Linked DNA regions of Homo sapiens. The protein of the gene in region 1 purifies or fractionates together with the protein of each later gene. This does not show direct contact. Each region holds a gene or a part of one and is shown on either strand. Other genes may lie near its edges.

Evidence for each region. Proteins that work in one complex are often made in the same cells at the same time.
Region 2: the proteins of BORA (region 1) and OBI1 purify together in Homo sapiens (affinity purification with mass spectrometry; one large-scale study listed by BioGRID and IntAct). This does not show direct contact.

What each region holds. Positions count from the first base shown.
Region 1 is NC_000013.11:72,734,423-72,737,922, reverse strand, and holds part of BORA (protein aurora borealis), read right to left. Parts: intron 2,964-3,500; coding exon 2,918-2,963; intron 1-2,917. UniProt on the Homo sapiens protein: Required for the activation of AURKA at the onset of mitosis.
Region 2 is NC_000013.11:78,656,356-78,660,311, reverse strand, and holds the start of OBI1 (ORC ubiquitin ligase 1), read left to right. Parts: upstream 1-1,156; 5' UTR 1,157-1,191; coding exon 1,192-1,263; intron 1,264-3,956. UniProt on the Homo sapiens protein: E3 ubiquitin ligase essential for DNA replication origin activation during S phase.

The sequences.
Region 1 (3,500 bases):
CCCAAAATGTGAGACGGTACCTGTGTTTTTCCAAGTAATTATTAAACATGTCATATACTAACTTTATAACTGTATGCAAAAATTTTAATACAAATGACCAAAGGAAAAATGGAAGAAATTTAAAGTATATATAAAGAGGAATCTTAATACTTCAAATCAACCAGTTAAATTTGAAACTTGCAAACTAAACTAAGAGGATTAATCATAGACAAAGTATTTTAAATTTCTTTCCCAGGTTTTTTTGATGGGGTTACAAAAAAAAGGATGAAAAGGGAAGGAATATATTAAGACAGAGACATGCAAGTAGGCCAGTATGAATGACGGCACTGAAGCTGGCTTGTTTGTTCTGGCTCTCAAGATCTGATTATTAAATTTTCAAGAATTCTGTGCACCAGTTGTTAAAACCAATATTAAAAATAAAATTATGTAAACTTACAATTAAATATATTAAAAATAAAGGTAACAAATATCCAAAACTCACCACTTGCTAATTATTTTATATATTTATCAATGTCTATGCTCTTGAGGTTAATAATGTATTTTGTATCTGTATGGTGGAATTCCTACATATAATGGTGTGCCACTATTCTTCCTTTCCCATTCAGTGATGTCACATCAGTAGCTTGAAACTGGCCATGGTTGGAGTACTTACACTATGGATAGCAGGAATCGCTATAAATCGTACTCCTTCCACGACCAGAGAGCAAGTTGTTAAACATTCACCAGCACACTACTGGCCAGTATATTCAAATGAGATAGAGCATTTGTATACTTTTCTTTCCTCTTTCATTTCTACCACAGTGTTTTCCCTTCCCTAGGTTTTGCAAGTAACCAAACATATTTTCTTCATATTTTGCTATACATATGACAAAGAGCTAATTTTCTTAACTAAATTACCCATGAATCTAAGAGGAAAAGATTCTTTTTTTTTTTTTTTTTAAAGGTGGACTGGGGCAGATATAGACAATTACCAGAAAAAAAATTAAAGGACCTATAAACTTACAAAGTGATGTATAAGTTCACTCAAAAGTAAAGAAATACAAAAAAAAAAAGTCATTTTTAAAGTAATAGGAGTAGAACAAATTAAGAATTCTGATAATAATCAATATTGGAGATATGGAAAATCAAGCAGTGTCACACTGTAATCAGGAGTATAAACTGGTATAACCTTTTAGGAGGGCAATATGGTAAAATCTACCAAAACTGAAAATTCACAAAGCCTCTGACTTACTAGGTCCATTTCAAGAATATAAAGATATATATACAAATCACTGCAGCATTATTTGTGACAGAAAAATAATAAACACAATTTAAACATCTGTCAACAGGGGCTAGGTAACTATGCTGTTGCTAAGAGAATGTAAAAATCTGTATATGCTGGTTATCAAAAATTTCTAAGAAAAATCATGAAGCAAAAAAAGGAGGATGCAGTATGAGAACGATAATAGTATGAGAATGATAATCCTATTTGTCGAAAATATTTTAAGGACATATGCTATTAAATAAGTAAAATTAATCTGAAAGTACACATAAGAAATGTTATAGTCATTACCTTCATGAAGTGGGATGGGGAAACAGGAGGCTTTTTATTTTATATTTTTTCTTTTTGTTTTTACTATATGTATATGTTTCTTCTATTTTCAAAAATATATATTGAAAAGAAACAAATTTTCTTAAGTTTACCTGCTGGGTTTCTCTTTAAAATTAAGGATTCTTAAAGAAAGTATTTTTTCAAAATGTTGGAAATTTTGAGAGTCTGAGAATATTCAGGTGGGGAAGAACCAAGTGACTGAGTCAGAATGAAAACTGTGCAGTTACTAGATAGAAGAAGAAGTAGGTAATGTTTAGCAGGAGTAAACATAGTCTTTTGTGGTACGGAAGAGCCAAGTACGGCTAAGGAACAGAGGAGGGTTGAGGGGGCTAGAGGGGCAGAAAAGTAAAAATCAGAAATGCTGCCATCACATAAAGACTTTCTGAGGAAAGAACAAGGTAAGTAACCCTTACTTAGATGCTGGGCCAGGCGCAGTGGCTCACGCCTGTAATCCCAGCACTTTGGGAGGCCAAGGTAGGCGGATCATCTGAGGTCGGGAGTTCGAGACCAGCTTGACCAAGATGGAGAAATCCCGTCTCTACTAAAAATACAAAATTAGCTGCGTGTGGTGGCGCATGCCTGTAATCCCAGCTACTCGGGAGACTGAGGCAGGAGAATCACTTGAACCTGGGAGGCGGAGACTGCAGTGGGCTGAGATCATGCCATTGCACTCCAGCCTGGGCAACAAGAACGAAACGCCGTCTCAAAAAACAAAAAATAATAATAATAATAACCTTATTTAGATGCTAAGAAAGGCAATTCAACAGACATAAAAAAGCAAAAAACTTAATTATTTTTATTTTTTAGAAAGCCTACATTATGATATACCTTTCCTGTTTAACAGTAAGAGATTTTATTTCATGAATATCTTAAAAATCCAAAGTATTAACAAAAAAAGACAAAGCCATTCCCAATGCCAATCTAGACTCTGAAGGCCTGAGAATATTCGACTTCCTCTACATAAACTCCAACTTGAAACAAAGTTTGTGCTAATCAACATTTTGAAGGCACAAGGAAGACAAATTGTGCTAGGTCCTGAGAATGAAAGGATGAAGTACAGTATTGGCCAAAAAAGATTGCGTCTAGGGGACAGAAACACTAAACTGATCATTACAACAGTATGCAAGTGCTATGCAAGGTACTGGGATAGCTGGAAATTATTGGTCTTAGGACAGTACAGAAGGGTGCTTTATATAGATGGGACTGTGAAGGGCTTGGAGGGGAGATAGGACAGTGAAGGAATTGAAGAAAGTCTTCCTAAAAGAAGTGATGTACATGCAGAATTGATCCTTAACTGATTTAATGATCAGTAACAGTTTAAGTTACCTCTTCAATGGCTTTTTGTCTTTTGTCTTCCACATCTTTATCTATTCTATACAAAGATAAAGAAGAAAAATAACCATGCTATTACTTAAGCTTATTGAACATTTTAAAAAATAACCTTTCAAATAAATAATCTCCCTTCATTGAAAACTGGCAAATGTTAAGCTCACTTTATAATTAATACTAGTGGTATCTTGTAACATTTAGTAACATTTAGGCAGTATTCTGAAATTCAGCAGTTAGCTGTTAGGCTTACCTCCCTCTTTTCCATTCAAAGTTTGAATGCAATGATACTTTATTTCAAAAGACTTACATTGATATTAAATTGCTTTTAACAATATAAATTTGATAAACTTTGTCCCTTAATACAAATTAAGAAGTATTTAATTCAACATACATCTAAAAATTGTCCAAAGTTTTTCTCTTCAATTATAACAAGTTTATCATGGCAATAATTTTAGAATCAACTTTTACTGTAAAATAGATGAGGATAGTTCACAGTTCTAAACAGTCAAAAATATTAACTCTGAAATAAAACACTGACAATATAACATTTTTTCCAAATGAATTTTTTTTTCACTTTGAT
Region 2 (3,956 bases), 5.9 Mb from region 1:
CCTGGGAGGTCGCTGTGTTGGCACCTAGTGGTGACAGAGCTAGACCCTATCTCAAAAAACAAAACAAAAGTTGCCAGAAGCCATGGAGCTACCGTTTAGGTAGGAAGTTGTTGGGGGCAGGGATTTCCGCTGAAGCAGCCCAGGTCCAGAACCCCTTTCTCTTAACCATGAGGCTGCTTCTTGAAGTCATACTGCGTCTTTTTCACAAAGATTAGTAAAAGTTGTCCCGATGGTCTTGTCTTTAAATCTCTCAACTCACAGATTTTACTTGTTAGCGTAATTTATCACATCAGCTCTTCCTCGCTTCAAGTAAGTTGCAGATAAATTCCAAATTTGTTATACTGCATTTAAGATAAATTTAGGAACTTTTAGGTTTTTTTCTTTTTTGTTGGTAGGAAACGCAACTTATAACCTCACAAATTCTCCCTTGGGGTTCAACAACACAGCGGTACATTTCATATGCAACCATGCACCTGAAATGAAGACGTGAAAACGTTAATCTCCTTTTGGTGGAAAACCCAGAGAAGCCCACAGTAAAAATGTATTTTCAGGGAAAGCTGCGATTAAATGTATCAGGATCGTCTCGGACACAGATAAGGAGACAATCACTGTTTTCTTAAGTGAATTATTGTGCCCTCTGGAAGCACATTATATTGAGTGGAAAGAGAACTGACAGAGGTGGAAAGCTGTTTTGAAAAAAATTGAAACGTGTAGATAATGTCTTTTCTCTATGTTTTGATTACGCTGTGTTGGCGGATGTGTGGGGTTTAATAATTAGGCGAAAAACTCTCCATCCTTCACCCCATCCAATCCCCGAAAACAATTTGGGGATTTAAAAAATCGCCTTTCCGTATCTTCCTCTTCTGTCTCCACTATTCCGCTTTCCTTTAGATTTTCCAAGATCCTCGATACTTGTAGTAAACTACCTTCCTACACATTCGCAGGAATCTTGCAGCTCCCTAATCAGTGAATTTTCTTTCTTTCTTTCTTTCTTTCTTTTTTTTTTTTTTTTTTTTAATGAAAGGAAAACGCCTTGGAGATCGCGCGTTTCGAAAGCGCGTTTTCGTTTTCTCTCCTGGGCGGGTTATGGCCCTACCGGGGCGCCGTAGCCGGCCCGCGCGTGCCCAGTCTTGGCGAAGAGTAGCGGTAGGTCGGCGGGACTTCCGTGTTGGCGGGATTCTGAACGCTGCCATGGCTCAGACCGTGCAGAATGTTACATTGTCGCTCACTCTGCCCATCACGTGCCACATTTGCTTGGGGAAGGTAATGGGTGATTGTGGGCACAGCTACAAAACGGGGTTGGATAAGTCGCTCGCCGGGGCCGAGGGCCGTCTCGTGCGGGGGCGGGGAAGGGGCGTGAGGCGCGGAGATGGGAGAAAACGCTAACCCGCGTTCTTGATGGGAGGCCGCGTCCTGGGAGATGGGGGTAGCGCACCGTGATTAATGGATTCATCTGGGCGCCTTTCGGAGGAGGGTGACAGCGGCCCGTGGTCTGCCGGGAGGGCGGCGAGACGGCCCTGCCACCGCCCGCGGCCTCACACTGGCAAGACACCGGCCTCGAAGGAGGCCCCATCAGAAACGCATCGCAGGGATATTTAACTTCCCTCTGCAGCCTCGCGTGGCGTGTAGTGAAGCCCATTAAAACACATTTCCTGGGAGCCTCACCTCGGGCTTCTTAGTCCTCTGTAACTAGTGTTCATCCTCTGGGGCCTACGGTGCTGTGTATTGAGTCTTTTCCATTTCCAAGACCTTTTGCCTTTATCCTGGCCTTGAGGATGACCTTTGCTCTGAATTCCTAATTTGAAAAGTAAATAGTAAGTGCTCCTGGAGGGTATTAGAATAAGAGGTGTGGCTTTTAACTCCAAGAATGGGTCAGTCAGGAGATAGAATACTCTCTCTTTGTGATGCAAGAGGTGCCTAGTGTGTTTGTGAAACAAGGTAGGGAAAGTGGTTCTGAATTAGAAACGGAGCTTTGAATATTCTAATGCATTCCTCTCCTCTTTCATTTCCATTTGTGCCTCACTTTCGGTGTTTTAAAGAGCATTTCTTTACCGAATAGATAAAGAAGGGGAAAGATAAACCACCAACTTTTTTCCACCCTGAATTATTTTTACGTCTGTGGTGTGTCAGGGTGTGTGTTTACCCCCCAGCGCAGACTGAGCCGTAGACTCAGATTTGAGAAATACAAACTTCTAGAGCAAGCATTTGAGTGCCGGCCAATACGATCTGCCTGGGGTGTTTGAAGTTCTGTGTGAATTTACTGGATTCAAAAAGTAGAAGAAAGTCAGCATTGGAAGCAACTGATAATTCTGGATAGCAGTCAGAATGAAATGCCAATGAAATAGCAAATGTGCTGGGAGATCATGGATTGGGGATGGCTTGATCAATTTGGAGAGATCAAGGATGGCCTCATCGAGGATGGTGTTTGAGCTGGCATTGAGCTATTACTTACTGCCTGCACGGCTAGGGGGAGGGAAGAAGCGATGTTTCTATTTGCCACAGTCTACATTTGGCTCCTGACATAAAGTTCCTGGAAATATGTGTTAAATTCTGAGTTAATTTCCTCCAACACTGGCTTTAAAGGCTGATAAAAATATTCTTGGGAAGTATTTTGTACACATTATATATAGTTTCCATTAGTTATAGGCTGTCTTTTGCAATTGTATTGACAGTGTTCTGTTTGATTTACCAAACCTATACTTTTTGTATTTAACGAGAGTGATACCTCATAGAATATAGTGATTTGCAGACTACAGAGTGCTTTTGTATGCATATATTATTTTGTTTACTCTTCACACCAATGCTTTAAGATAGGGCTGGTTTTTCCATTTTTAAAATAAGAATATTAAAGCTTAGAGTCTGTGGTTGAACCTCTATACTATCATTTGTGTCTTCAGAATACTAAGACTTTGAGTCTTCATAGTTGAACCTCTATCATTATTACCATTTGTCTTCAGATTACTTCGTAAAACCCTCACCTAAGTTCATCCATGACATCAGGCATTTTTAGTGTTTTTTTTTTCCTGTATTGGTTAACTTTATTCTGAAATAAAAATCAGATAATAAAAATAAAAAGATTAAGACTTTTGTCTTAATCTTATGTGCCAGACTTTATGCTAAACTTTGCACATGCTTCATTTAATCTTCTGAAAACAGAAAGGATGGGGAGTTGATGTTATTACCATATTTCTACTGTTACAGATAAGGAAACAGGCTCAAAAAGGTTAAGCCAGGCGCGGTGGCTCACGCCTGTAATCCCAGCACTTTGGGAGGCCGAGGCGGGCAGATCGCCTGAGGTCAGGAGTTTGAGACCAGCATGGCCAATATGGTGAAACCCCATCGCTACTAAAAATACAAAATTTGCTGGGTGTGGTGGCAGGCGCCTGTAATCCCAGTTGAGGCAGGAGAATTGCTTGAACCTGGGAGGCGGAGGTTGTAGTGAGCTGAGATCGCGCCATTGCACTCCAGCCTGGGCAACAAGAGTGAGACTTTGTCTCAAAAAAAAAAAAAAAAAAAAAATTAAAAATAAAAGAAAATTAATTAATTAAGGATTTTTAAACAGGCTCCTCCCCCCCCCCCCCCAGGTACCATGGAAGCAGAAAGGATATGTGACTGAGGGCCTGAGTTCTACATTCAGGCTAGCCGGGTTCTAATCTAATCTACCACTTACCACTCATACAACCTTTTACAAGTTACTTAACTTTTTTTCTTTTTTTTTTCTTTTTTTCTGAGACGGAGTTTCGCTCTTGTTGCCCGGGCTGGAGAGCAATGGCGCGATCTCGGCTCACCGCAACCTCCGCCTCCCGGGTTCAAGCAATTCTCCTGCCTCAGCCTCCTGAGTAGCTGGGATTACAGGCATGCGCCACCACGCCCGGCAAATTTTGTATTTTTGGTAGAGACGGGGTTTCTCCATGTTGGTCAGGCTGGTCTTGAACTCCCGAACTAGGTGATCTGCC